Linked DNA regions of Homo sapiens: regions 1, 2 and 3 are each linked to region 4. Evidence: fine-mapped expression QTL. A gene starts in region 4. Each other region holds a variant in brackets. All regions are shown on one strand. Distances are from middle to middle.

Region 1 (7,356 bases), 54 kb before region 4:
AGGAAAGCAAATCACCAGGTTCTCCCTCAGCCACCCTCTGCTCCTCCACCCTGTCAAGCCCAGGAGATCAGTGTCCTGAGTCCAAGGCCCTAGACCCTAGCCACAGCTACTAGGATCTTCCGTGCCCAGCTTCTCCCTTCATCCAAATGATAGGGCCTCCTTTGCCAAGCTGGGAGAGGGCATGTCCTCAGATCTCAGCGGGGAGTCGCCTGGACTTCGCAGTACAGAATGATAGGTGGGCTCAGAGCCCTGGCCTCAGCCCTGGCCCTCCCCTCCAGAGGGTGCTCTACCCGGACCGGGGGACAGTGCCCAGGTGCACACATCAGCCTCCCTGCTCCTTCTCCATGCCGCCATCAGCAAAGACCCCTGTCACACAGACCTAGTGGACACGCTAATGCCATACAAAGGCACGAGGCAGTGCGGCCAGAGATATGGGGGTAGGGGCAGCCCTGCCCTGTCAAACACAGGGAGAGGCTTACACGTTATACAGATGGGCACAGGAGTGGTGTAAAGGGGCTAGAAGCCCCCAGAGGCCTCAGGAGGTCACCAACTCAGACATAAGCATTCATAGGTACTGACGGTGTGGGGCTGTCAAACCTGGCACCCTCTAAGAAGGACACTTGAACTGGGAAGAAACGGTGTCTGGGGGAGCTGGGGAAACAGACGAGGGACCCAGGGCCCATCGGGCTCCTCTTGTTGTGTGTGGGCGAAATGGCAGCAAGGTCATCCCGTGCCCCGGGTGGGGGATGGGCACCCCAGTGGCATGGACCCACCCTCAGGTTAGCCCGAGCCCCTACACTCTCGGAGGGCCCCAGCTGTGAGGCACAGTCAGCCTGAAACCTGAGGCCCAGGCATGGACACTGGCTGGGTCCTGACCCCCTGGGTGAGAAATCAGGAAAAGATAAGAAAACATAAGAAGTATGTTCTTTGTCACATTTCTTGGAGTTGAAAGTAAAGGAGACGTGGGCTCTCCTCTCAGGTTGGCTTCTGGCTTTAGACAGATCCCTCCAGTGCTGGACGGCCCTTCCCCAGATTGGAGTAGGAGGGCTGGGCTGCACCAGTGGCTCCCAGATCTCCGGGTTTCATGGACCCATGAAATAACTCTGAATAGGAGGATCACCACGTGGCTGGCCACATTTTGGTGTGTTAAGTGAGGACATTAAAAAGGCTAGTTCTTTATATTTGAAGAACTATAACTATAAAAATCATGGCCAGGTGCAGTGGCTCACACCTGTAATCACAGCACTTTGGGAGGCTGAGGTGGGTGGATCACGAGGTCAGGAGATCGAGACCATCCTGGCTAACACAGTGAAACCCTGTCTCCACTAAAAATACAAAAAATTAGCTGGGCATGGTGGCGGGCACCTGTAGTCCCAGCTACTTGGGAGGCTGAGGCAGGAGAATGGCGTGAACCCAGGAGGTGGAGCTTGCAGTGAGCCGAGATTGCGCCACTGCAGTTCAGCCTGGGCGACAGAGCGAGACTCCATCTCAAAAAAAAAAAAAATCATTACAATGTTGTATATATATATTTTTTCTCAAATCACATAAGACAGGGGAGACCTTTATGTTGAATAGACACCTTCTATGGGCCAGGTATTTGGGGACTGATGAATAAGGTGACATCATAGCCTGTAACTAACTCCCTTAAAGCTCATCTGAAAATGGGTTTCTCACATTGGCCAGGAGGTGGAGACAGAGAATGTCTCACGTTCAGGCATGGGCTGGGAAGAGGGCAGAGATTCTGCCTTTCCAGCTTTCTCTCTCCAGAGTGAGCAGAGTTGAAACACCTAGAACTCAACCAGGCCCCCCTTGGGCTCCAGTGGCTGAGAACCACATGCCACATGGGCCCAACTTGAAGGGCGACACTCGGTCTAGATGCTCCCCAGGGGCCTGACACAGAGCTGCACCATCTCAAGCTCCCGGCACTACCTCCCGCTGGGGTCCTCCCAGACACAGGGTGGGAGCCTGGAGGGGAAAGAGGCCTTACACTCCAGCAGGAGGCCCGAGCACAGACGCCAGCCCAGGTGCAGGCCAGTGGGGCTAGGTGGTCACTGGAGGGAGCGGAGGGCTCCTGAGTGGGGGGAGAGCACCCTACCTGGCTGTGGGCATGAGAGGCGGCCTCAGAGTCCAGCTACCGACAGCAAGCAAAGGAGAGAGAGAGAAGAAGGGTGAAGATAAGCAGACCACTGGCACGCCCCCTTCAGCAAGTGCTCCTGAGTCAAGTGGGCCGGCACTCTCTAGTTGTCCAAGGCTCGGGGTGAAGGTGGGGGAGCTTGGTGCCAGGACCTGGGACCTGGCCTGAGCAGGTGAACTGCACCCAGTCAAGGAGAGGCCAGGAAGGTGAAGAGACACTAGTGACCATCAGGCCTCTCAGAGGAGATGCTCCTCTAAGTCATTCCCGGTGGCCCGGGCAGGAGTCTGCCACTCTGCCTCTGGCCGCAGTCTCTCCTGGGCTGGCCATCCGGTCTATTCTGAATCAGGCTCCCTCTTCTGTGTGTCTACCAGGTCAGGCCACCTCACCACACCCAAGGCCTGGGCCCCCTGCCAGCCTCTTGCCTTATCTCCAGAGCATTTCTCAGCCTAGCTCCCCTGTGGCCACCAGCACAGAGCTGTTCCTTGCCTTCTAACACAGCCCAAGGGTGCCACTCCCTAGGCCAAGGGCTGTGTTCAGAGCTGTCGCCCTGCACCTCTCATAGAACACAGCTCCCAGCAGCTTGCAGTCTAGAATCTCTTCCTCAACCCCGACGTACCCTATAGCACTCCCACCTCTGCCAGCCAGGCACACCGACCCCATCTAGATCCAACCTGGGGACCACTTGACAGCTGCCCAAGAGCAAAGGCACTGTGGGCAAACCCTGTGGCCAGCCGTGACCTCTCTGGTTACTTAAAGCCCTGAAAAGCCTTTCTGGGGAGGAAGGCAAGTCAACCAGGACTTGGATGTTACCTGTTAGAAATCGGCAAGGAGTTATCAGGCCCCACCTGGGTCTAGAGAGCCAGGTCACCAAAAATAGCGACAGCAACCTTCCTTACCACCCGCCAGGCCCTGACACCAACACATGTCCTCGAGGCAGGACAATGTGGCCAGAGAAAGGGACTGGGCCCTGAGCGAGGAGGGGTGCCCTCCCACATGCACAGGACTTTGGGCTCTCTGGAGGAACCACTCTCCCCAGAGCACTTCTCTCATTTCTTTAAGAGAGAGCCCAACATGAGGGCCCACAGGCCGCCATGGAGCCATCTTCATGGTCAGCGCGCCTACAGACACACACAGGGTCCTGCCGCCAGCCTCAGGAAGAGGGCGGCCAGGGACTGGGACCCACACACAAGAGTGGCATTACAGAAGCTGTGAAGATCCTCTCCAGCCGCTGGTGGGCCTCTTCCACGGGGGTCAGCTGGACCTTGGCAGCTCCTGCCTAAAGGTTAAACCACTATTAGTCCCAGCCCAGAAATGGAGAGGCCACAGCATGCGGAGCTCCCAGCCCAGGAAGCCACTGGGACCCACTAGGGAAGGGGAGCAGCGCCAGGGAGCAAGCCGCGCGGCAATCTGAGTTTTTAAACCATCAGATTAGAAAAAAAAGAACAAGTGCCTGGGAGTTCTGGGGTTATTTCTTCCCACCTGCCTATCTTGAGCACCAAATGGCCCTATTATCCCACTTGCCCTCTGGACCCTTCCCCAGGCCCAGGTGACAGGTGGCTAAACTCCAGGTCAGGGCATGTCTCAGCTCCCATCTCCTCCCTTGTGAGAGGAGGAGGGACGGGGAGGAGGGACGGGGAGGAGGGAGGGGAGGGCAGCCGCCCGGGAACAGGACCACGACACTCCCCACCTGCTTATGGGTTCTCCAGAGCGACCAACAGTTCTGCCCATACCCTGCCCAAAATGCCCATGCCAGCTCCTCCCTGTGAGCAGGAACAGGCACTTCCCTGATTCACAGAGTGGGCCAGGTGGGTGGGGGAAGCGGCGGCTGGCTTTTCTCTAAGTGCTGCAATGCCCAGGAAGAATGGGGAGCAACAAGGCTCCCCAGGTCCCAGGAGGTAACAGTCAGGGAGGGCCTCAAGGCCTCTCAGGCTATTCCCCCATACCCTCCAGACCCCTCTCCTTCCAGCCAGAAGGAGCCTGCATGAGCACAGGGAAGTAGTGGCAAAACTTGATGCTCCTCTCCCACACCCTGGGA[G/A]GCCTCAGCAGGGTCCAAAAAAGGGAAGCTTGAAGAGAACTGTCCCCAACTCAGAGGCCAGCCAAGAAGGCAACACTTTCCAAGGGAAAGAGGCTGGACTGACCCTCCCTCCTGCTTCTCAGCCTCCTGCCCCACCCAGAGAACACTTTCTGGGAAGATAGGGTTGCCCCTATATCCCAAGGGGCCCACTGTACCCATCTGCCATCCAAGCACAGGGCTCCTCAAGAGTCCTGCTGCCAGATGGTCATGCTGGCCAGGCCTAAAGAAGGCAGTGATGGCAGTGAGGGCATCAATAACAACTGTTATTAGCACCACTATCAACGCTACCATTTATGGAGCACCCACCATGCCAGGGACCGGCTTGGAGCATTATCTGTATCATTTCTAATCTTCTGGTTACTTAAAACCCTTATTAACCCTTATTTGCAATTCCAAAATCCCAAAAGCCCCCCCAAACAAAATATTTTTCTTAACTATTTTGGCGGCAAAACCTGGCAGTTTATCCTCTATGCCCCTGTAGTGTGAATATTCATAGATTTTGCTTTGGAAATATTAATGTTTGTTACACGTTGTTGCTCATTATGTATACTGTATGGCACTAAAATACAAAGATTACTAATTTCCAAAATACTGCCACACCCAGGGTATCAGAGAAGAAATTTTGGACCTGTATTATCCCCACTCAACAGAGGAAGTCTGAGATGGGACTTTGCTGAGGTCCCAGGGGATGAGTGGCTGGGAATGCAAGCCCAGATCCCTGACTTGAGAAAACAGTCTTTCCTCCTGGAACTGATCTGCTGAGACTCTGATCCTCGGGTTTGGGTCTCAGGCCTCAAGCTGGCGCCATGTAGCTGGGGACCAGGCCCTGACTCCCTATGGCAAGGCCAACATGCTGCTTAGCAGTTTCCATCCCAGCCGCCAGGCCAGAGCCCAGGCAACTGCAGGGTCCGCATTGGGTTAGGGAAAGCCATGCAGCCCCTGCCGGCCATCAGCACACGACCCTGGGCCCAGCCTCTCGGTCATGCGGGGTTCGCTGAGGTCGCTTGGGGAAGCCGGCTGTGAGGGTGCCTGGCCCTTGAGCTAGGGTGGTGAGGGGCAGGAGCGGTTAGTGACACACTCTTGTACCTCCTGCTTCACACCAGGGACTGGTGACTTGGACTGCTGCTCTCCAGTGAGGTCTGACTTCGGGCCGGTGGAGCCTGGGGTCACCAGCTCTTCCGGTGGGGCTGGGGAGCGCTGCTTCTTTGGGGCTTCAGGCTTGGCTGGGGATCCTGCTTTCTCAGGGGAGTCTGCCCAGTCTGGGGAGCCTGGCTCCTGGCTGGAGGGCTTCTCCCCCTTCCCAGAAGACTGCTTGCCGCGGGCCTTGTGCTCCTTGCCCCTGCCCCGAGACATCAGGCTCCGCAGGCCCAGGGAGAGCTCATCCTTGGCTGCCTCCTTCTTCACTTCAGGCTTAGGCGGAGCAGGGGGAGGTGGGGGAGGGGGTGGCGGCTTGGGACTAGAAGCTGCCTTTTCTCCCCTCTTGCTTCGAGTCGGGTGCTCGGGGGACTTGACTCCTCTGCCTGGGGTCTCCTTGGCATTCCCAAGCTCCTCGCTGGGCAGCACCTTACTCACCACCTTCCTCACTGCATTTGCCACCCGCTTCCGGGACAGGCCCTGGGCCTCTTCGCTTAGGCCTTCTGCTGTGGCAGCTCCCGGGCCGTTCATGGCGAGTGTGGGTGCAGGGCTCCTGGCTCTCTGGGAAGTCTCTGGGGGTATCGGGCTGGTGGGAGGCTGAGGACTCCTAGATGGGCCACTGCCTTCCTTTGAGCTGCCCTCTAGCTACAGTCATACAAATACAGGTAGACATTAGCATCACCCCTGCAGCCCTGCCCATCCCATGCAGAGGGAATAAGAAGGTGTGACCTCACGCCCTGGAACAGATCTCCCATTCATCTACCAAGCAACACATGGCTCCACGAGGCTACCCCAGGAAGCCCACTTTCCATCTTACAAATAGGACAACTGCAGCTAAGAGTCTGGCTTCTTTCCCACAAAGCACAATCAGCACAATCAGGTACTACTGTCACCTGCTGTCTATCCCCAGACTTAGCATGGACCTGTGAGATGCCGGCACAGAGCGCCGAGAGGCCTATGAGGTGCTCTGGGGTTACTGGCTTTGTGTCAGGGCAGCAACCAAGTCCCATTCTAGGTGAGCCCACTGCCTCGCAGCCCAGACACAGCAGAGATGGAGCATGGACACAGCAGAGATGGAGCATGGAGAGGTCAAACAGCCGAGTCCCACCTCCATTCCTACCACCAATCCCAGGCCTAACTCCAGGGCGTCCTGACCTTTGTAGTCCTTGGTCCTTCCATCACCTGTTTTCCGGGCAGTCAGACCAAGAGCCTACCCATCCTGAAGGAAAAAATGATCAGGGAGCTCTTCCTGGCCCCAAGACATGCCAGGCCTCCTCCTCACAGCGTCCCTCGTCTGCGGCCACTGTCTGCCCTTCATCTATGTTCTCAAGCACTGAGGAGCCCAGCACGGGCCAGGAAGCTTCCACTTCAGCCTGCTTTCTGCCAGTCTCCTTGCAGTTTTCCTCCTGCAAACCTCTCAAGGGTTTGGAGACCCCCTAGTTCCCAGAGTGTGTATAGCCCTCAAGCAGCCTCAGCTCCAATCTTCCCTGGAGTGGACTGGTATACTCTAGCTGGTGTGCCCACCCTTCCCCCACACACTGGTGCTAACTGTCTGGGTCCCAAGGGACTGCCACTGGAAGGCCAGGCTGGCTAACGGCAGGATAGAGTTTCCCATAAAGCCAGCTCCATTGCCTGGGGAGCGTAAGGGCAACCTGGGTTCTCCTTGTTGGCCAAGCAGAGCTCTGTCACCAGCTGAGCTGTGCTTGAGTCCTTGTTACCCAAAACAATGATCTTGGTTCTAGAACACATATGGGCACTGGGCTCCGTGAAGGCCCACCTGCCCATGCTTGCTTGGATGCAGGAAGACGCTCACAGTAGGCGCACCTGGGAGCTGCTGCCTCTGGATGCCACAAGGAGAAGTTGCTCCACCTTTTGAGCAGAGCTGAGCCAAGGGCCTTAATCTAGGCCCTGGTTACAGGTTGGCTCCGCTGAAGGGATAGAGAGAGTAAGGGCTTGAAGGTGCCTCTTCCTCAACCTCTTAGGCCAAGAGTGCTCAATGGCATGCCAGGGCACT
Region 2 (7,356 bases), 62 kb before region 4:
TCCGAAGCCAGAGTCACATTCTCATTACTCACATGAGTTGATTAGGCAACACAGAACAAGCCCACTCTCAATTTCACACAATCATCCTTGAAACACTTGAAGACAACTGCCATTTTCCTTCTGAATCCTCTCTCGCCCCAAATAAATATCCTGACAATTCACTCAACTCACTTCCAGATGAGGCAGGATTTCCAGTTCTCGTCCCATCCGGGACACCCTTTTACAGAAGGCACTAAATCATCACCTGGCACCCTCACAGATCAGGGAAGGGAGACGGGAAGGCCAGGCCCAGACACACTTGGAGCAGGAACCACACAGTGGCAATCACCAGGCCTGGGAGGTGCCTCAAAAGAGGCCAAGGGTAGCCTCCTGGGGGCCCTCAATGCACCTGTAGGCTTCCTGGAGAGTAAACTCTCCACCAAGTAAGAACGTAGCCAAAGCCAGAGGCCACGGACAAGGGGGCAAGGAACGACTCCTGCTCCAGAGAGCGCAGGAGGACAGAAATGGAGAGTAAGGTGATGCCTTCTGCATCCACAGATGCCCTCGCTGTGGGTGCCAAGGCCAGAATCTGAGGCTAGATGAGGCCCAGGCCCCAGAGCTACCTCCTTGTATCTTTCCAACTCCTGCACGAAGGTGCGCTCGTGGAAGAGCCTCTGCAGCCGGTCTTGGGTGTAGTTGTGGCACAGCTCCTCAAAGGAGGCTCCGCGGGCTGACCCACCCTGCTCAGGGTTCTGGAAGCCCGGGGTGTCGACAATCATCATGGAGCAGAGTGAGTGCTGGCTGGACTTGAGAGCCCTGGATAGGGACAGCCTGGGTCAGAGCCTCGCTGGTTGGCCCCGGGCACCAGGAAGCCCCACCCTGCCCAAGCCAGACCTCTATCCCTGCCCAGGACCCTGGTGGGGAGGGCATGCTGGCCTTGCTCATAGCCCATGGGACAGGGAGCCCCTGCTGGAAGAGACCGGCTCTGCCTCGGCCAACAAGGCATGAAGGCATCTACTCCACCTCTGCCAAAGCAGGAAAAGCCCTGGGTCCTGCCTGGCACTCACCTATTCACCAGGGAGACGAGAAGGGTGAAGAGCTCGCTGTAGAGGCCGGCCGCCATGCCCTCAAGGCACTCCAGTGCACTCAGTTTCGGGCCTGTGGGGCAGGGGGAGCAGCGCTATCTCCTTCTCCCCAGGGCTCCCCATCTGGGTAAGCCCCTGACCTGCCCAGGGCCCAGTCAGCACGGGGCCTGGGGCAGGGCCTCTGCCACTGACAGAGCATCTGTTCACTCCAGCAGTCCCCTCCCGCCCCAGGGATGGCAGCAAGCCCCAGATGAGGCCTCACACTCACAACTACCAGCCAAGGGACAAAGGGTACCTGTCCCATCTCCCAGGCCACTCTCCTCGGGGCCCTGGCGGAAGGAGGTGGAGCGCTGCAGGGTGCCACCCTTGTGCTGGTGCTTGAAGATGGCTGAGGACAGCTCCTCCAGGCTGCAGCCCAGTAGGTACGCAGCCTTCTGGGCCCACTCATGGCGGGCAAACTGCTTGCGCCCAGCTGTGGAGTGGAAAAAGGGATCTGGCATCCTGGGTCTTTTTCCTTAGGCCAGCTGATGACCTGATGACCAGCTGATGACTATGCATCTTCTGGAGGCAAAAGCCAGCCCTGATGACACCCGATGGGCTTCAGGCAGAACAGGGGCAGCCAGCAGTGGCCAGCATTTCCTGTGTCCCGTGGGGATGGAGAGAATGAGCAGGTCCTAAAGGAGGAGGTAACTCCACATGCTGCCACCGGAGGGCAACAAACCAGCTGCAAAAATCCCTTTTCAGATGGCTCAGCTCCGGGGATGCCCAACTAGGGGAAGGGCGGAGTCAGAGGATGAACCAGCCCACCTGGGATGGGCACAAGAACCCCGTGTGCCTGTGGGGGACTTATCTTGAGAGATCGCTCATGCCTCCACATTCCCTGAGTACATTAGAACCCTCCCTCTTGCCCCCTGGCATCTGCCAGTGGAGACCACAAACACCCACTGATGGCCCAACAGTGGGGAGGCAAAAAAGCCACAGGGGAAAGGGAACAGCCCGCACAGACATATGTGCCTCAGCCAACATGTGTCTAATCACGGCAATTAGGGAAAGCTAACAAGAAACAAGGTTTTACCTTCAGCAGCTTCTGTAAGGCAAAGGACCAGCATGCAGCATGCAAAGAAAAACAGTGTGTTAGCAAACAGTCATCAATAGAGCTCGCCGCCTCGGAGGGACCGTGGGGCGGGGGTGTTGTGAGGATGAGTAGGCAAGAAAACACAACCACAGTCAGACTTGGGACAAACGCACACACACACAGTCTCCAGGGAGTATGTTTGTGGGTGTAATCACACTGACACACACAGAAAGAGACCCGCAAAGACATTTGTGCACATGTGTGTGTGCGCAAACACACCCTCCCCCCCCCCCCCCCCCCCCGCCGGAAAACACTGGAAGCTCTGAGGCGCTAACAGACATTGTTTGAGAAGATCGCTGTGCTGACACCCGGAGCTTTCCGCTTGCAGTTGGGGCTGGGTAGGTTAGAGGAAAGCTAGGCTTGTCACCGCCTCAGAGTGAAGTAACTTCCCTCAACACACAGCCACACGCCTGCCCGCCTGTCTGTCCTCCACATTCTCGAGAAAACTTCTCTAACCTAGAGCCTGGCTCCTCCTGGGCAGGGATGCCACTTCTTGGGGTCGCTCGCATGGAGCCTCACGCCTGGGCACCCATTCCTCCATACACCCACCACCTGCCAGGACTTTCTCACTCCAGCTGAGCAGCCTGGGGCCCTTCACATCCCAGAAGGGGCCAAAGCCAAAGCCCAAGGTGCTGTTCAGCGCCAGCATCCCCTTTCCCTAAACTGGAGAAAAAGGGGGTGAAGAGGTGCTCGAATCGCCATCCTCCAACGTAAGTCATCTTGAAGGATGGAGCAGAGCTCCTCCAAGCCAGGCCAAGTCCCCGAGCGCAAGTGCCAAAGCTGCAGCCCATTCGTTACCACGGTGCCTGCTGCCCCCTAGTGGCCGCCACCCTGACATGCAAGAGGAAGATACGGAGCTACCCAACCAGTGGAGAAGGGAAGAGGACTGGGGAAAACTGGTCTGGGGAGGCCCCAGGTAGCAAGCCCACCCTACCCCACCCCACGGTGGGCATCCTGAGAGGTTCCAGGATTCAGATCTAAAACTGGCAGGAGAAGCAGCTACTCCTGGGACTCTAAGACACCCCACAGCCTGCAGGCTCCACTTCCACTCTCAACCTCCAGGCTTCTCCCCAGACCAGTCCTCTCTGCAGCAACAGAACAAGCCCAGCCCCTAGAAAGTCCTGGGCAAGCACCAAGACAGGGCACGGCGGCCCCTATACCCAAGGGCGGGGCCAAGGTCAGTTACCCGCTTGCTCCTCGGGGGCCTCTGTCAGGAAGGGAACAAGAAGGAGAGTTATTCCAGCGGGGCTGCCCTGCCTTAGTGCCCTTCTCATCCCTCAGCCTCTGAACCCCCAGCCCTCCATGCTTCCTCATGGTGCCCC[C/T]CAGCACAGCCAGCTAAGTCCAGGCCTCGGGTCGTCACTGCCAAAGATGCTTCCCGGGCCTTCTGCTCTGAAGTGGGGGGCTGAGAAGAGGCACAAGCAAAAGAGGGTTGTCTCAGAACGGCTAAGTCTGTGCTGGGCAAGAATAAACTGGGAGTGGGCAGGGTCCCTGTGAGGTCACCCAGGGGACAGGCCAGCCTACTGGGACCCACTGCAGGTTACCTTTGGTGGCTCCCGCAGCCCCCAGGTGGTAGATGGCAGCCAGAATGAACCAGCAGGCCTTCTGTTCATCGGGGGAGATGCCCAGCACCTTCATGGCCGCCTGCAGCTTACTAAACTGCTGAGCTGCCTTCTGCTTTTCCTCAGGCTGTGGAGATAGATGACCTCAAAGGGCTGTCCCTCCCAGCACACCCCCATGAGGCTGGGCCCTCAGGGCAAGGCTTGGGTAGAGCCAGCAGCTGGAGCTGGGCTCCCACTATTCCCACAGGACCCATGGAGGCTTCTCCTACCCCCAAGGCCCAGGGCTGGCAACCCAGACCCCACAGACCCCTCACCTTGGCCAGTGGCACAATCCCAAACACATTGTTCTCTGCCAAGTGGTTGAGGTGGAGCTCTGTCCTAGGGGTACAAATAAGGCATCAGCACGGCACTTGGTCCCCATGCCAAGGCCATTTCCGCCCAGGGTGGAGACAGACAGACTCAGCTTCCAGACTCCAAGTTTTGTCTGCCCATCATCCCATCATCCCCAACTGGCGGGCCAGCTGTCACTGCTTTCCTAACTGGCCTGGATGCCTGGTTAGAGTACCATTCTCCTGAGGACAAGCCACCAGACATGCCCTGGTGAGAGGATGCAACCTGGCCCCCGGAAGGGAGCAGGGAACCTGCCCGAAGGGTGAGTCCCGCCAAGGCAGAGACGATGCCCTCAGTTACAAGAAGGGCTAAAGAGGACAATGGCCTGGGGATGCTGGCTCAGCCTCATCATTTATCTCTTTTTAGTGAACACACGCGGCAAATCTGAATGTCTGAAGGGAAGAGCGTGGCAGAGGCAGCCAACGTGGGGCAGGAAGGGCTAGTCTGGAGGGCACTGGAAGAGGCATGGGCTTTTGGCCCCAGTGTGGATTCAAATACCAGTTCAGCCCCCTACCAGTCATGCGACAGTAGGCAAGTCCCCAACCACTGGTACCTCAGTGTGCTTTGCTTTCCAGAACTGGCTTCATGGGTAATGGAGATCCTAGCTAGGCCCTGGCAACACTGAAGGGCTGGCTGTTCCCCTCCAATACAGCCAGGCCCCAGTACCCAGGACCAGGGAGTTCTTGATAGGCAGGGACTATGTCTCATCCATCTCACTGTCCCTGGGGCCTAGCTCAGAGCCTAGCACATAGCAGACATGCACTGACCAAACAGTGCAGGATGCGATCAAGTGGCTTTAATTCTGGATGCAATCAAGGTCCAGGAGCCCAGTCAGTGGGCTGGAGTTCAGAGAACCCTTGTGTACCCTCTGACCCATCTCACCTGAGGGTGCCATCCCCACAGGCCAGCAGGTAGTAGAAGACGTTGAATGTGGCTTCACTGGCTGGGCGCCGAGCCACACGCAGCTTCTCCAGAAGCATTGTCTGTGACACAGCATGGACGTGTGGGTAAGGAGGGTAGTGCCAGATCAAGTTTCTCCCACCCCACATAAGAAGGAATCAAACACATGGTCCTCTAGGCCCTGGGGAACAAGCAGCTGCATTTTTTTTTTTTTTTTTTTTTAAGATTTGAGATGGAGTCTCACTCTGTCACTCAGGCTGGAGTGCAGTGGAGCGATCTTGGCTCACTGCAACTTCTGCCTCCTGGGTTTAAGCAATTCTCCTGCCTTGGCCTCCTGAGTAGCTGGGATTACAGGCATGCACCACCATACCCGGCTGATTTTTGTGTTTTTAGTAGAGATGGGGTTTTGCCATGTTGGCCAGGCTGTTCTTGAGCTCCTGACCTCAGGTGATCCACCCACCTCAGCCTCCCGAAGTGCTGGGATTACAGGCGTGAGCCACCGCACCCAACCTGCATCTTGTTTTTTAAGTCTTTTTTTTTTAAGATAGGGTCTCGCTCTGTTGCCCAGGCTGGAGTGCAGTGGCGCAATCACAGCTCGCTGCAGCCTTAACCTCCCAGGTTCAAGTGACCCTCCCATTTCAGCCTCCCAAGTAGCTGGGACCACAGGCGTGCACTACCACATCTGGCTCAATTAAGCAGGTGCATCTTATTCCCAAGGTGCTCAATCAGATACCAGATCCCTCTAGGATCAAATGGGGGACAGAAACCAGAATGAGGTGGAAGAAGACAGGCCCAGCTCCCAAAGGGGCCCTGCTGCTCTGCCCAGACCCCAGGTGCCTGCCTTCTGGAAATGGGAGCTTGTGGTGAGGTATTTAGCATGGGAGGGAATCAGCCTTGGCTGGGCCTTACTTTACTGACAAGCCAGTCCTCTGCTAGGTGAAATCGGCCCGAGAGAAGCCCCGAGCATGAATCTCAGAAAGTGGGAAGTAAGGCTGAGGCCCAGCAGTAGAGTTAGGACAACCCCAGGGTTGGGAGAGTGAAGGGAACTGGGCAGAAAGCTGGACTGGCCCCATCCAGGGCAGGAGGCCCTGAGGGCAGAATGGTGATGCCTCTGGATAGTGCAGGCCAACCCTGCCCATGCCTGGGTCAATTTTGTTAGGGTAGAATCCCAGGAAAATGAGGCATGGGAGAGAGCCTGATGTCTAGGTCATGAAATCATGTGGCCTGTGTCCTACTACCCCGAGTCCTGGGCAGCACTCTCACCTGAATGGAGGCTGAGGCCACCTGGCCAGCTTGGTCAAAGTCCAGGGAGAGGATCTGGGAGAAGCGGGTGGCATTGCCATTAATGATGGTGGGGCTGTTCCCAAAGGCTTCCAGGAGGGTGTACAGAGCCTGCCACTTCTCCACTGCAGAATACAGGCCCAAGGGGATATCAGGAAAGCCAGGGGCAGCTTATCCCCCAGCTAGGAGCTACCCCAGAGGTATGAAGGCTTGGGGCCATTCAGACCAGAACTGCCCGTGGACAGAGGGGTTTCGGGGGGATGGAAAGGCCAGGGAGAAAAAGAGCTGGCACTTAAGAGGGTGCTCTCTCCTCACTCCCCTCCCCTCACCCCACTTTCAGTTTTCTCCCTTGTCCCTGCCTCACCAGAAAACACCTTGTTCCCGCTGATGCCCGCGATGGTGGCCAGGTACTGCACCAGATGCTGGCAGCTGGTGGTCTTGCCACTGCCACTACTGCCCAGGAGGATGATTGACTGATCCTGACGGCTCATCAGCATCGCCCTGTATGCGGTCTGGGCCACTGCATAGATGTGGGGTGCCATGTCCTCCCGCCGACAACCCTTGAACATGTGCATCACCTTGGGCAGGAGAGCAAGGGAGAGAAGGGGTTGGCTCTTAGCTGATCCCATTAAGACACCCCTCACCCCCAAGGTCCACATCTTTCTGGATTTTCCCTCCTGTAGTGCCCAGGGATTCCAAGGCCAAGGCCATGCATGGAAATGAAGACACTAAGTCCTGGACTCCATCAAAGGTTGTGGGGAGGTCCTGTCCCCCATCTCTTGAAATGACTCCTCTTCCCAAGGTCAACTGTGAGAGTGGACAGGAGCCCAGTGGGGTGCCACAGGGGAAGGGCAGAGAGCCAGGGCAGGGGGTGGGACCAGGAGTCTGCAGGGTAGCCTTGAGGGTGCTGCACCTTCTCAGAGTACACAGCAGGGGCCCCACGGGGGCCAAGAACCAGCAGGCTGGGGCCAGCATACGTGTGCAGCAGGCTAGCGCCATAGCGCTGGCGCAAGGTGTGCAGGACGCT
Region 3 (7,356 bases), 41 kb before region 4:
CCCAGGCCTGTTCCTCTGCATCAGCTGTTCCTATGAGCTTCACTCTGAACACAGATGTGGGGCTCTCCCCAGAGGAAATTCTCTCTGTGGCTTTTATGCAGAATTGCCTAGACAGTTTTCCTCTCTCCCTTATCACTGAATTTGTTTAGGATCAAGAGCAAGTTATCCTGGAACTGGATTGTTTATAACCCAAAGGATAAATGCTTGAGGGGGTAGAGACCCCATTGTCCATTGCCCAAGCACATGCTTGTTTCTCAATGCATGCCCATATCAAAACAAAACATCTCATGGACCGGGCGTGGTGGCTCACGCCTGTAATCCCAGAACTTTGGGAGGCTGAGGTGGGTGGATTACTTGAGCTCAGGAGTTTGAGACCAGCCTGGGCAACACGATGAATCCTTGTCTCTACCAAAAACACAAAAAATTAACTGGGAACGATGGTGCATGCCTGTGGTCCCAGGTACTGGGGAGGCTGAGGTGGGAGGATCGCTTGAGCCTGGGAGGCAGAGGTTGTAGTGAGCAGAGATCGCAATACTGCATGCTCCAGCCTGGGTGACCGAGTGAGACCCCATCTCAAAAGAAAAAAAAAAAAAAAATATATATATATATATATATATATGTAATGTATCCCATAAGTACATAAACCTACCATGTACCCACAAAAATTAAAAAAAAAAAAGATCAAGTTACTGTTATCCAAGACAGAATGGGTAAGGAACTCAGGCCCCAAAGGTGGTGGCAGCATATGTGTTGGGAACATATGGCTCTCTGGAGCAAGGGTGTTTAGATCTAAGGCCTCTCTTCCTTGACTTGTTCTCTCTCTAGAGATTTCAGCCATTTCCAGCAACATTACTGAATATGGAGCACCTACAATGAGATGGGCCCTATACAAGATATTGAACATTTATTTTCTAATGTAAATCTTACAACAATCTGAGGATTGGTGATATGGGAATTATTATTATTCCCATTTTATCGAGGAGGGAAAAGATTCAGAAAGAGATTAAGTCACAAAGTTAGTTAAGTGGGGGAACCCAGACTTGAACCCACACTGGTCTGCCTCCAAAGCCTGTGCTGCTTCCTCAGTGCCCACCTTTTCTGGTATGTTAGGCAGGCATCAGCTTTGGTAGCCAAATCTGGTTGATAAACTTCATCGGCGTGAAGGTTCAGAAGATCTGGTCAAGCCAAAGCATGGATTGATAGTGTGTTTTACTAGTGTGCAACTCTCCAAATCGAGTTTTTGGATGTGCAAAAAGGGAGACCCCACCATGATTCTGCCACTCTGCAGGTCTACCCACCTCCTCCCTCTGTGGCACTTCTGAGGGACAGCAAGAGAGACCAAAACTCACTGAACACTTACTATGAGCCAGGCACAGGGGAAGGCACTTCATACAGGTCTCCTCATTGAATCCTCATAACAACACACTTTCTAGATAAGGAAATAAAGAAGGTGAATTGCCGAGAGCGCTGCAACTATTAAGTGGCAGAGCTGGGAGCCACAACCAGAATGTATCTTGGGGAGCTGTTTGTGCGTCTTTGTCATCCCTGGACTGTGATTCACCTCTGAGCAGAACTTACCCATCTTACTCATCATACTGTAGGCGCTTAATAAATGTTAGCTGCACGAGAGTGCTGGGACAGGGGTTCTTTGCACAAACCTCTTATTCCCATCTAATCTCTTCCCCAAATATAAACTACAGAGAACAACACTTGCCCATTCTGATTCCCAGGGACATGGTACAAACAAGGGAGGTATAATCTCTAAACCTGCTCACAATAAATACATAGTGAACTCAATGCCTGGGTTTGCAGGGAGGGCAAGGACACTGAAATTGCTTAGTAGCTCTTCGTGAACAATAGCCACAAAATGCATCATCCTCTGGCCTACCCATTCCATCTTCAGGAATGTATGTCCAGTGAGCTGACTTAAAGAAAGAAAAAGAAAAAAAACGCAAAGATTTTTATAGATGCACTCTATATAACAGCTCCAAATTGGAAAGAGCCCAAATGCCTAGAATTAAGAAATGGTTAGGTACAACCCGTTGTTGTATTGCCATTTAAACTGACAAATGTGTGGACAATGTAACCATATGGAAAGCTCCATATAAAATGACATCAATCAAAAAAACTGGAACCCAAATAGTATACAAACAGTGATCATAATAATCTTGTAAACTGTGTGAATTAGACACAACATGAACACCTGGTATTTATTTTGGTATGTATTTGTTACTTACTGCTTATTTTTATTGTGAAGATGGCTAAATAGTCAAAAAAAAAGCAAAGGAGATAATAGCTAGAAGCATTTGTTCTCAAAGAGGAGAAATCCAAGAAATGTACTGAGGGACTGTCAAGCCTCAGCCCCAGGAGGCTTCTGACACTCTGGGAGCAGCTGGGGTTTACCCTCCACCATGCCAGCAGAGCCTACCCGCCCTTAACCTGCACTCTCTGGGCCCCTCACAGGAGGGAATGGGGGCACAAATGCTCCTGGGAGAATAATGCCACGCCTCAGGCAGCCCCTCAGGCCTGGAATGCCTGGCCTGGACAAATGCTTTGAGGCCCAAGCATCCACACCAGACATCTGCACACTGCAAGCCCCCGAGAGCAGCAGGTAACTCTCAAGAGAGTGCCCAAAGGAAGCTGAGACGTAGCTGGTGGCCGAGGTCACTTTCCCGCCTCGCCGCTTCTGACAGCACTCACACACCGGAGGCTTCTCCTTCTGAGGACCAAGAGGCAGGGCATTCTCCTCTCCTCCCTCTTTCCCATTCAGAGGCACAGAGGGCAGCTCCCAGGAGACTTCTTCCTCCCAGTCCCAACCTAGCACCAACTTATCTAGGGATTGAGGGCGAGGAAGGGTGGCAGGAACAAAGGAGAAGGGAAGAAATACTAGCATAATAGTAAAAAACGGTTAATCATTATTGAGCATTTGGTATGTGTCAGGTGCTGTGCTGAATCCCTCACATGAATCATCTCATTTGATCCTCACAACATCCCTCTGAAATAGATACTAGTGTGACTGTGTGACTGCTACTTTACAAATGAGCAAAAGGAGGCTCAGAAGGTCAGGTGACTCGCCCAAAGCCTCACAGCAGCAAGTGGCAGATCTGGGACTCACACTCAGGTCTCCTGCGAGAGCCCTCCACTGCTCACTTTAAGGGATGGAGGCACGCCCTGCCCTCCATTTCCCCTGGTTCACCTGCACTGTTGTCCTTCTACATCAGCTGCCAGAAGAGCAGCTTGGGAGGAAAGCAGGGGTTCCCAATGATGACCCGCCCCTCCACCCACCAACCTGAATATGCTTTACGTGGAACTGCTTGAGAGGAAGGGAAGCTCTCTAAGGAATGAACTGAAGGCCATGCTGCCAGACAGCGGGGGAGGGGGAGATGAGCTTGGCAGGGACAACCTGGCCCTTGCAGTCCAGCCTCCAGCCAGAGCCCTCCCCAGCCCCAGGGCGGAACAGAAAGCAGCCGGGCACCCGCCTCACTGCAGGCCAGCCCAGAGGAAGCAGGTGCACTGGAATGGCTTCCTGCCGCAAC[T/C]GCAGTTGCAGAAGGGTCTTGGTTTCCTCCTCCAACGACTGAACCTGCTGGAGGCCCCCCTTCCCTGGGGATGCTCACTGCCCCTCTGGAGGGCACTTTGCTGTCTGCTTGGATATCACTGTGCATGGCCCTAAATCTGTGACCTGGTGCTAGTGGCCCGGGGGTGGCTGGGGGAGAGTACCCTAGACCAGGAAGCGCCCATCTCTCAGGGTGAGGAGCTCTCTCTGACCTCTCCCCCACCCCCGGGCATACTGCCCACACAACTCAGCCCTGGTGCCAGTTTGGGGGCTGAGGCAGGGCAGTCCTGAGCACAGAGAGATACAAGTACTCACGGGTACATCTCAGGCTCCTGATGCACCTCCGCACCAGGCCAGCCCACGTACTCTGCCAACTGCTGACACAACTGAAAACCTTACCCTTGGTGGCTGGGAGGGGTAGAGTCAGGGGAACGGGAAGGACTGGGAGCAGCTATGTCTCTCCTCACTTTCTTTTTTAAGGAACTTACTTATCTGGAGTAATCTCTACTAAAAAAGAGACTTAGGGCCAGTCAGAGCATCCCCAACACGCCATCTGTGCCCCTTGCAAGTGTCCTATGCACAGAAATGGAGGTGGCCATGCTAAGACTACTCTTGGGGACAGCGAGAAGGGTGCTCCCTGACAACTCCAAGGACCATCCCCTCTCAAGGAGGAAGAGAGGAAAGAGCTATACCAGCAACAAAGCAGAGACAAGACTACCGAGGACCTTGGGTGCTGTGGGGCTGGGGCTTTGGAAGAAAACAGTGTTCTAAGGAATGAAGGCCAAAAAAGCACTAATGGTTGGTGGGGAAGGCGTGTCACAGCCTTGGGGGTGGATGCAACCCCAGGAAACTGAGGTTCAGAAGACAGTGCCCCTCCAAAACTCCTGAAGTCATGAGTCAGGCCCAGGATGCCCTGCTCCTAGCCACGGAGGGGTTTTGAGGCTTCCGGGGCTGAGTAACTCCCTTCTTACCAAGAAGCTCGGAGAGGAGCCCCAAGGCTGCCCCACCCCTCTCCCCACCTACTTCAGCCACATCTGGGGAAATCACAAAAAGGTCCCTCCTTTCCTAAATGAGGAAATAGCATGAGGAGCCTGGGACATTTCCGGGGTGGGGGGTCAGAGGGACACTCACCCGCATGGCCTGGCCTGGAGCAGCCCAGAGCAAGGAGACTCCGCTCTGATGCTGCTCTGGCTCCGTTAGCAGCTCAAAATAGCACAGGCTGTGGCCCCGCCCAGTTCCCGCCCTCTCCCCGGCCCCTCCCGTCCCGAGCTGCCCAGCCCTAGTTGGAGCCAGCAGCCCGGAGGACTTCGGGTATCAGGTATGCCAGGAGGGAGAGGGTGATACAGCAGTGTGTGTGGAAGGGAAGGAGAAGGCTCTTAGGGTAAAGCCATTGGGGTGGGGGGCAGGCAGTGTTAGGGGGTTAGGGCAAGGACAGGGAGGGTGAGACTTGCCTATGGACACACACCCCAGCTCCGGGACAGCTGGGCTGATATGGCTCCTAAAAATAGCAGAGGAATTTGAGACCTGCAGCCCCCGGCCCCACAGGCCAAGCTTGAGACAAGCACATGCGCACTCATGTGCATGTACACGTATACACACACACACACACACACCAGCATGCACGAACATTCAATCAACACAGTGTTCTTGAGAACACCCAAATCATAGGCCTACCCTAGCCATCTAATTACTGCGGCAGAGGCCAAGACAGCCACTAACGTCACATCCAAGACAGCACACGGGGCCCACTGCACACTGTGCCCAAACAGCAGCCGCAAAGCAGTCCTGTAAGGTCTGGCAGGAGCAGAGACCCACACGGGCAGGCCCACTTACTGCCCCACTGCCATCAGCACACAGGGGACATGCAGAGAATCAATTACACTCTCTTTGTTTACATCCCTCTCCCCTCCACAGACGCCAGGGACTGCACAGGCAGAGAGGAGGGTGGGGTGGGCCTCAGCCCTGCAGACAGAGGAAGTCATGGGTGTCTAGCCAATGAGTGATGGCTGCCTGTGAAAAGCCAGTGTTTCTTGTGAAGAGAAATCCTGGCCTGGCTCTCCAGTTAGCACCATGGGATGCCTAGACCAGGACTAGGGACCCGCTGAGACGCTGAAATGGGAGCTGGAGAACAGAATGTCAAGGGGCCAAAAGACAGGGAGAGCAAGTCTCAGAAGCCGTCAGCTCTGCAGAAAAAAGGAAACAGTCATTGCCTCCCTCTTCCTCTTTAGGAAAAAAAAAAAATGGGGTGGGGGTGGTGCTAGGAAGCCCTGATACAGAACCGCCTCCTAACCAGTCTGGCATACACCCCATGCTTCTTGCCCCTGGCCAGCTCTAAGGGCCATTGGTTCTATACATTGTCTGACTTTCTCCATGAAAAGATTGGTAAGCACTGCCAGAGAGGATGGAAACCCAGCCCTGCCTCCTACCTGCCATGCGCTGTCCAAGTCTCACTGTCATATAGTCACATACACAGACTCTTAGGACACGGCGCTTGTGTCCTGCTCTCTAGGGAGTGGGATGTCCCCCCAGGGGAAGCATCTGGCCCTTCTGAAGCACGTGCAGTGTCACAGGTCTTCACATCTTCAGTGGCTACTTAGAACAATGGTGCCAGCCTCAGCTGCTCACTGAAATCCACTGGGGAACTTGAAAAAAATACTGATGCCTGGAGCCCACCCTTTCCCTCTCAGTTTCTGACATAATTGGTCTGGGAGCAGGGGCCTGGGCACTGGGATTTTTTTGTTTTTGTTTTTTTTTGAGACGGAGTCTCGCTCTGTCGCCCAGGCTGGAGTGCAGTGGCGTGATCTCGGCTCACTGCAAGCTCCGCCTCCCGGGTTCACGCCATTCTCCTGCCTCAGCCTCCCGAGTAGCTGGGACTACAGGCGCCTGCCACCATGCCCGGCTAATTTTTTGTATTTTTAGTAGAGACGGGGTTTCACCGTGGTCTCAATCTCCTGACCTCGTGATCCGCCCGCCTTGGCCTCCCAGAGTGCTGGAATTACAGGCGTGAGCCACTGCGCCTGGCTGGACACTGGGATTTTTTATTGATAAAAGCTCCCCAGGTGATTCTCACATGCAGCCAAGGCTGAGAACTGCAAGACTCTAAGGCCAGCATAAGGCCTAGCACAGAAATGTCCATTTGTTAAATGAATGAGTGAATGAATGAATGATTTAGCTGTGTGAACACAGGCAGGTGACTTAAATTTCCCTTATCTGTAAAATGAGGATTACACCTTTACTGACTCTTACCCAACCAGTATGAGACTGGTACATAATGTATGTGAAAGGGCTTTGGTTCTCCAAGTTCTCAGGCCAGCAGCGTGGGCATCCCCTGGGGACTTGTTGGAAATGCAAATTCCAGGAACCCAACCCAGACCTGCTGAACCAAGAACTCTGGATATGGGGTGCAGCATCTGTGTTTTAACTAGGCTTCCAGGTGATGCTGAGGCACATTAAAGTCTGAGAAGCACGGCTTGAAAGGAATGATTCACAGCATACCATGGTTAGGAGTATGACCTCCAGGGCCACACGGCCTGGTTTAATCTTGGCTCTTGCATGAAGTAAACTACACAACTTGATCTCTCTGTGTTTCAACTTCTTTTCATTTGTATTTTATTTTTTGAAATAGAGTCTCACTCACTCTATCGGCTGGAGTACAGTGGCTCCATCTCGGCTCACTGCAACCTCCGCCTCCCAGGTTCAAGCGATTCTTGTGCCTCAGGCTCCTGTGTAGCTGGGATTACAGGCAGGCGCCACCACGCCCAGCTAATTTTTGTATTTTTAGTGGAGACGGGGTTTCACCATTT
Region 4 (7,356 bases):
GCCGACTGCACGCTTCTCACGTGACATTAGCCAGCCCTCACGCCGCCGCGCGGGGAGCCGGGCGGCCCTTGGCGTTTCCCCGCGGCTGGGCCGGCGCAGCCGCAGCCCCGCGGCGCCTCCCGCTGCGATCCCATCTCCCCCGGAAGGCAGCAATCCCGCGGGCCATGGAGGAACGCGAGCGGGAGAGCTCCTGCGGCCTCGCCAGGTTCCCTGCTGCTCTTCCAGGTGCACCGCCTGGCGCTCAGTTCCGCTAACATCCCCTTCCGTGTGACCTTGAGCAAGTCCCCTCCCCTCTCTAAGCCTCCACTATTTCAGCTACAGTTATCTTCAAGGGCCTGACAGCTCAGATTTGGCCCTCAGCCTCTGCTGGAGAGCTATTCTGCTCAACCACACACTGCAGGTTGTAATCCCGCTCTGCCTCTGACTTGCTGTGTGACCTTCAGCCCATCATCCAACCTCTCTGAATATTAGAGAATAATCACAATAATCTCTTGTAAGTGATGATAAACTACTTGGCAGACAGAAAGGGCCCTGGGTCCTGTAAAATCATCAGTCTAACAACCAAAACTGCTGCCTGACTCTAAACTGTTTAAAATGTCAAGGGAAATTGACATTTTACAAGCCCTGCAATTCCTACCTCAAAAGAAGGGCAGGGAAGTGAAGGTGGGAAGTGGAGGCTCACCAGGTCTGCTCACCACCCCTCCCAATCCAGCTCCTACCTCGGCACCTCCCCAACTCCTCTAATTCAGGCCACCTTGGAAAATGCTAGGGGGAAGAAATGGTGATGGGGTGGGGTGTGCAGATCTTAAAGCACCCGGGGGTCTGACCCAAAGCAGAACTTAAACTCCATCAAGCTGCCCTACCAATCCCAAGTCCTGTGGGAACCTGTCAATTACAGCAGACAGTGGGCTGGGCCCTCCTACTGCCCCAAACCTTTAAACTACAACCAGCCAGAGCCCCTCAGTTTTCCCACCACACTCAGGCCTGGGACCCCAGGCCACCAACAAAACCCAGCTCACGTGGATGCTCTGGCTCCTGCCTGTGGCGTCCACCCCAGGTGAGAGGATCTGGCTGAGGAGAGACCTCTGGTTTGAAGGATTAAGAACAGCCCTGCTGCCCTGAAGACCTGTGACACAGCAAGTCCAGATGAAGGCTTCCTGAGTTCCAACAACTCCCAGCTCCACCTCAGCAGGGTGGATTCTCCCTTTCACATGAGCCCCAGTTCTGCCCCACCCAGTCCACCTTTAGGTACCTGCCTCTGGGGGACCCAGAGTTTTCAGGCCCAGTTTCTGAAGACACATGCAGTCCTCAATGAATAGCCACTACCAGGGCCAGTGAGGGGGCCTCCAGGGAACTGGCTGGCTACCCAGACAGCCCAGGAGTGAGGCTGAGAGACCAGGTGGGAGTCAGGAAGGGCATAACCCACATGAGGAAAGTCTGGGGCGCAGGAGGAAGCCCTCAGGCACACACTCTGGCACCTGGGCCAGGCCAGGAGAGAGTAAACAAACTAGACACTCAGAGCTACCAGGCACCAGGTCATCAACTGTTCAAAGTTCAAAGCTCCCAAAGGAAGTGACCGCCAGCCTGTGGCCCCTCCCATGCCCACCCTCCACCCCCACCTACAACCCTTCTCATTCCCCTAATCCCTCAACACAATAGCTGCCCCCAAAGCCATGGTTTTCCTGGAATTGAGGCCACAACCCCCATGTCCTCAACCCAAAATGGACAAGCACACCTCCACCCGAGGCTATATATAACCCGTCATGTCAAATCCAGAAACCAGGAGGATGTTTCCTGGAAAGACTTCATCACAAAAAAACAGAGAGGAAGCTGAGGAGGTGGGAAGCCATGGACAAAGAGCCAGTGAGGCTTGTCAGGAAGCCAGAGACCTCAGGAGAGCAACTTTCAATATCTCCAGATAGAAAGTAGCCCCTGAACTAAAAAGGGTGGGGAACATTAGGCCAGGCCTGTTGCCACAACAACAGGGCACCAACCTGCTCAAGAAAAGGGCTCCAAAGCACAAGGGAAAGGCGGCTGATTCAATGGGCTCTGTACTCACCGTCCTGCTCAGGTGATCTTGCTCTTAATCACCCAGGTGGCCTCCCCTCCCTTCCAGCACACCCCAGTGCATACACACTTCCCAGAGCTCACTTGCCACAGGGGCACTGATGAGGCCTTCTCGGCCACAGACACGCCAGGGGCTCCAAAAGACAAGACGAACCCACACTAACTAGCCCAAGTCATTGGCAGGGTGAAGCAGGGAGGGAATCCAATTCTTTAATTCGGGGTGGCCATCTGAGGGAATGAAAGCCCTAGCCAGGACAGTCCCTCTCAGGAAGCATTCCCCCAGCCCTCCCCACACAAATACAAACTATGAGGCCAGCGCCAAACACATGCCCCATTGGCAAAGTGGTCAGGCAAAATGAATACCCGCTCAAAAACAAACTGGCTGTCTTCCTCCCCATCTCCCCCACCCCCCACCTCTAGCTCATTCTGGCCGCAACCTTTCCAACTAATCAGCAAGACACATGTGCCTTGCAGTAGGGCAACTCCCCCATCTCCACCCCCAAAACAAAGCCCCAATGCCTGGCCTGTCCCTGCGGGCCTTATCGCACCCAGGAACATGACCCACACTCCTGGCCGGGTTTGGGACCAAGGAGCGCACCCCCACTAACAAGGGGCAGGGTGAGGGGGCAGCCACCCCTACCACCTCCCCTTCCCATTGGCGAAACAACTGGCATGACAGGTTAGCAGGGCGGGGCGTCGGGGCGGTCTCTCCAGAGGCCTGGGGCAGCTTGTCCGACCTTCCCACACGCACCCCACCCCTCTGCAGGGAAAGGTGAGGTGAGCATTCAGTCTCAGGGCACAGCCTGCACTCCCTAATCCCCAAAGCCTGCCACCATTCACCCTCTCATCTTCTGTCCCAAGAGGAGGGGGCCCAGGGAAGCGGGGTCTCCATTGTTTTGCCAGCTGTCTAGCAGCTGCTCCTTTGAGAGGAGCCCGCAGTCTGCCCGGCAGTGAAAGAGTGAAGGCCGCTGGGAGGGATAAAAGGGTCGGTAGAGGTGCTCCCCTTCCCCGCTGCCTTCCTCAGCGCCCCGCTCTCTCGCTCGCTCCATCGTGGGGCCTGGACGGGGGCAGGAGAAGTCCCCCCACCCTCGAGGCTGCAGCCCCCACCCCGCAGCTCCGGGCCACCTGGGCGCCTCCAAGCCCCAAATCCCCCCACACTGAAGGCCACCCTGTCCTGCCTCCCTGCGCCCCCCAGGTTGGCTGGAAGGGCCGGTGGTTCCCCCTTCCCCGCCGCTCCCGATCGGCCCCCACCCCCGGGCGTCGAGCTCCACGGCGCCGCCAGGGACGGGAGCCGGGAGTCCGGGCCGCTGCTTCCAGGGGACGGGGGAGGAGGAGGAGGAGCCGGCGGGCCCCGCCGCCCGCCCGCCCTCCCTCCCGGCCGGAGCCCGCCCCGCCGCCCCACCAAGCCGGGCCCGCCACCGAGCGGCCGCCGCCGCCGACCGGCACTCACCGGCCACCGGAGCCCGCCCGGCAGGCAGCAGAAGCGGAGACGCGGCATCCAGCAGCCTCGGCCCGGTCAGGGATGGAGCAGAGCGCAGCGCGGCGCAGCTCAGCGCCGCCCCCAGCGACCGCGCAGGCCGAGCCGAAAGGGAGCTCCCTGCTGGCGGCTGTGGGGATAAACGCCCGGCCTGCCTGGCAGCGCCAGTGCGCGCCGCCAGACGTGGGCCAGGCGGGCCGGGCGCTGCCCTGGCAGCCTCCGTCCGCTGTGGACTCCGAAGCCCCTCTCGCTGTGTCTGAGAGAGGCCCTGCCTGGAGTTTCTGTCTGCACTGGGCACTGGAGGCTGTCCGAAAAGGGTCCGAAAGGGGCTGAGTGGCACTGCCTAGGACAGGCACCAGGGTCATGATGAACGTATAGAAGAGGGGCTGTCCAAGGCAGGCACCGAACTCTGCAGGCTGTGTTCAAGGTAGTGCTGTCTAAAGGAAGCAATTAAGTCTTACTGGCCGCCTCCTCCCAAGGTGGCTCTGCAGAGGCACACACAGGGCCCTGCTGGATGGTGCCCCAGGCTCAGTCCAGACCAGGTACTGCCTGCCATGTCCGAGATGGCACTGCCAGAATGCACTCCCCAAGGTAAAAACAGACTCCCAATAGCTTGGTCTGATACAGCCCTGCCTCAAAATGGAGTGGATCAAGAGGCGTACCAGGGCCCGGGAGCCATGGCTGTAAGTGCCACTCACTCCCTAAAGGAGTTCACCAATGCCAAGATTAACACTTTCAGAAGCTCTTTGGAATGCAGTCTGTCCCTGGGTCCACTGTGTGCTGTAAATATCAAGTGAGCTGCTGTACCCACCAAGAAGACAGTTTATACTTCCTGGGAGAGGCCAAGGGACATCCAGATACCAGGCCTCCAAGATAGGTGCTATGTCTAGAGTTTGGAGAAAGAAAGAAATGGGGACACTTCCCTGGGCAGTGTCCATGCTGGAGTGGGGTGTGCCAGAATGTGGAAGAAACTGAGTGGGGTGGTGCAGGAAGAAGGGTGTAGCAGACAAATGCTGCTACCTCCCTAGACAGCCCAAACAGGAACTTCTCCAGGCAAGGGCAGCCCAACCTGACAGACCAGGGAAGGCTGGAGCAAGGAGGCTCAGAAAGCAGAGAGTTGAGTAAGAGTTAGGGAGTTCCTGAGGAATAGACCCAGGCGGGATACACATTTTGGAATAACATGCAACTCAAATTCAATTTAACAAACTGCCTGCTAAGTGCCAAGTGCAGCCCCAGGCACTTGGGGTGACACAGAAGGAGATCAGACATGGCATATCTCCAGGGAAATCACATGGGGAACAGGTAGACCTGAGCTGTGACAGTAGTAGGGTTCACCATGCTGGCATTACTTGGATGATGAGATAGGTGCTATGATGGGAGGCTTATTTGGCTTGAGGAGTGAGAAGAGCAGCTTCAAAAACATGACATTTGAGGCCAGGCATGGTGGCTTATGCCTGTAATCCCAGCACTTTGGGAGGCTGAGGTGGGCAGATCACTTGAGGCCAGCGTTCAAGACCAGCCTGGCCAACATGGCGAAACCCCATCACTACTACAAATACAAAAAATTAACCAGGCGTGGTAGTGCATGTCTATAATCCCAGCTACTTGGGAGGCTGAGGCAGGAGAATCTCTTGAACCTGGGGAGCAGAGGTTGCAGTGAGCGGAGATTACACCACTGTACTTCAGCCTGGGCGACAGAGCAAGACTCTGTCTCCAAAAAAGAAAAAAAAAAAACCCCAAAAACATGACATTTGAGCGGAACCTTGCAGGCTAAGTAGGACAACGACTATCATTAGTGTTTCCTGAGTACCTATTATATACTAGACACTATCTCTACTCCTCACAATGAACCTATGAGGGAGACATTATTATTATAGATAGGGGTTGAGTGCATGGACTCTGGAGCTGGATTGCCTGGATTCAAAATCTCAGTTCTGTAAAGTACTAGCTGTGTTACTCTGGGTGATTTTTTATAAATCACCTCTCTGTGCTTCACTTTGCTCATCCAAAAAATTGGGATAATAACAGTGACTCCCTCCCTCAAAATTTGTTTTGAAAATTATATAAGCTTAGTCTTTTCAACACATGGGGCTTTTCAACAAACTGGACATCCACATGCAAAAAAAAAAAAAGGGGGGGGTCTAGACACAGACTTTATACCCTTCACAAAAATTAACTCAGAATAGATTATATACCTAAATGTAAAACACAAAACTATAAAACTGTCTCCTAGAGGATAACATAGGAGAAAACCTAGATGACCTTGAGTATCACAATGACTCTTTAGATACAACACCAAAGGCACCATAAAAGAAAGAGCTGATAAGCTGGGCTTCATTAAAATTAAAAATGTCTGCTCTGCAAAAGACTGTCAAGAGAATGAGAAGACAAGCCACAACTGGGATAAAATATATGCAAAAGACATCTGATAAAGGATTGTTATCCAAAATACGCAGAGTTTTAAAAACTCAACAATAAGAAAATGAACCACCCAATTTAGAAATGGGCAAAAAACCTGATCAGACACCTTACCAAAGAAGATATACAGATAGCAGTAAGCAAAAGAAAAGATATTCAACACTGTATATCATTAGAGAATAGCAAATTAAAGCCAGGTGCGGTGGCTCACGCCTGTAATCCCAGCACTTTGGGAGGCTGAGGCAGGTGTGTCATGAGATCAGGAGCTCGAGACCATCCTGGCTAACATGGTGAAACCCCGTCTCTACTAAAAATATGCAAAAGACATCTGATAAAGGACTGTTATCCAAAATATGCAAAGAGTTTTAAAAACTCAACAATAAGAAAACCACCCAATTTAGAAATGGGTAAAAAACCTGATCAGACACCTTACCAAAGAAGATATACAGATAGTAGTAAGCAAAAGAAAAGATACTCAACATTGTATGTCACTAGAGAATAGCAAATTAAAGCCAGGTGCAGTGGCTCACGCCTGTAATCCCAGCACTTTGGGAGGCCGAGGCAGGTGGATCAGGAGGTCAAGAGATCCAGACCATCCTGGCCTACATGGTGAAACCCTGTCTCTACTAAAAGAACAAAAATTAGCCTGGTGTGGTGGCATGCACCTGTAGTCCCAGCTACTCAGGAGGCTGAGGCAGGAGATTCACTTGAACCCAGGAGGCAGAGGGTGCAGTGAGCCGAGATTGCACCACTGCACTCCAGCCTGGGTGACAGAGCAAGACTCCGTCTCAAAAAATAATAATAAATAAAAAATAAAAGAGAATAGCAAATTAAGATGACCATGAGGTAAAACTACTTTATTTACCTAAATTTGGATTTTGGCCAAAATCCGAAATGCCAACAACTCCAAATGCTAGCAAGAATGTAGAGCAACAGGAACTCCCATTCTCTGCTGGTAGCAAAATGGTATAGCCACTTTGAAAGACAGTTTGGTGGTTTCTTAGAAAATGAAACATATTCTTACCATACAATCCAACAATCCCACTCCTTGGTATTTATCCAAATGAATTGAAAACTTATGTCCACACAAAATCCTGCACATGATGTTTGTAGCAACTTTATTCATAATTGCCAAAACTTGGAAGCAACCAAGATGAACTTCAGTAGGTAAATGGACAAATAACCTATGGTATATCTAGACAATGGCATATTATGTGGCACTAAAAAAGAAATGAGCTATCAAGCCATGAAAAGACATGGAGGAAACTTAAATGTATATTAATAAGTGAAAGAAGCTGATCTGAAAAGGCTACATGTTGTATGATTCCAACTATATGGCATTCTGCAAAAGGCAAAACTATGGAGACAATAAAAAGGTTAGTGGTGCCATGGAT

The links.
Region 1: its variant is fine-mapped to the expression of MYO18A in whole blood (TOPMed, PIP above 0.99). The same link has a PIP of 0.9 or more in blood mononuclear cells and non-classical monocytes.
Region 2: its variant is fine-mapped to the expression of MYO18A in whole blood (TOPMed, PIP above 0.99). The same link has a PIP of 0.9 or more in esophagus mucosa, sun-exposed skin, tibial nerve and unexposed skin.
Region 3: its variant is fine-mapped to the expression of MYO18A in whole blood (TOPMed, PIP above 0.99). The same link has a PIP of 0.9 or more in blood mononuclear cells.

The regions. Positions count from the first base shown.
Region 1 is chr17:29,122,558-29,129,913 of GRCh38, forward strand. All of the region lies in intron 2 of MYO18A (myosin XVIIIA), which reads right to left. Among named protein-coding and RNA genes, the nearest start is that of MYO18A, 54 kb to the right of the region's middle. RefSeq lists an enhancer at 4,920-5,455. The variant G/A (reference allele first, on the strand shown) is at 4,170.
Region 2 is chr17:29,114,305-29,121,660 of GRCh38, forward strand. MYO18A (myosin XVIIIA) reads right to left here. Exons shown (of 42, transcript NM_078471.4): 5 at 7,243-7,356; 6 at 6,694-6,907; 7 at 6,312-6,454; 8 at 5,031-5,131; 9 at 4,073-4,136; 10 at 3,741-3,885; 11 at 2,140-2,151; 12 at 1,360-1,536; 13 at 1,047-1,137; 14 at 603-795. Among named protein-coding and RNA genes, the nearest start is that of MYO18A, 62 kb to the right of the region's middle. RefSeq lists silencers at 2,867-3,161, 2,982-3,031. The variant C/T (reference allele first, on the strand shown) is at 3,522.
Region 3 is chr17:29,135,656-29,143,011 of GRCh38, forward strand. The region is part of intron 2 of MYO18A (myosin XVIIIA); the gene reads right to left. LOC124903967 (a long non-coding RNA gene) reads left to right here and starts at 4,819. Exons shown (of 3, transcript XR_007065693.1): 1 at 4,819-4,871. RefSeq lists enhancers at 2,064-3,047, 3,048-4,031, 3,724-3,773, 4,974-5,063, 5,214-5,263 and a silencer at 4,464-4,513. The variant T/C (reference allele first, on the strand shown) is at 3,537.
Region 4 is chr17:29,176,796-29,184,151 of GRCh38, forward strand. MYO18A (myosin XVIIIA) reads right to left here and starts at 3,603. Exons shown (of 42, transcript NM_078471.4): 1 at 3,518-3,603. RefSeq lists silencers at 76-275, 3,277-3,326, 3,447-3,496, 3,462-3,682.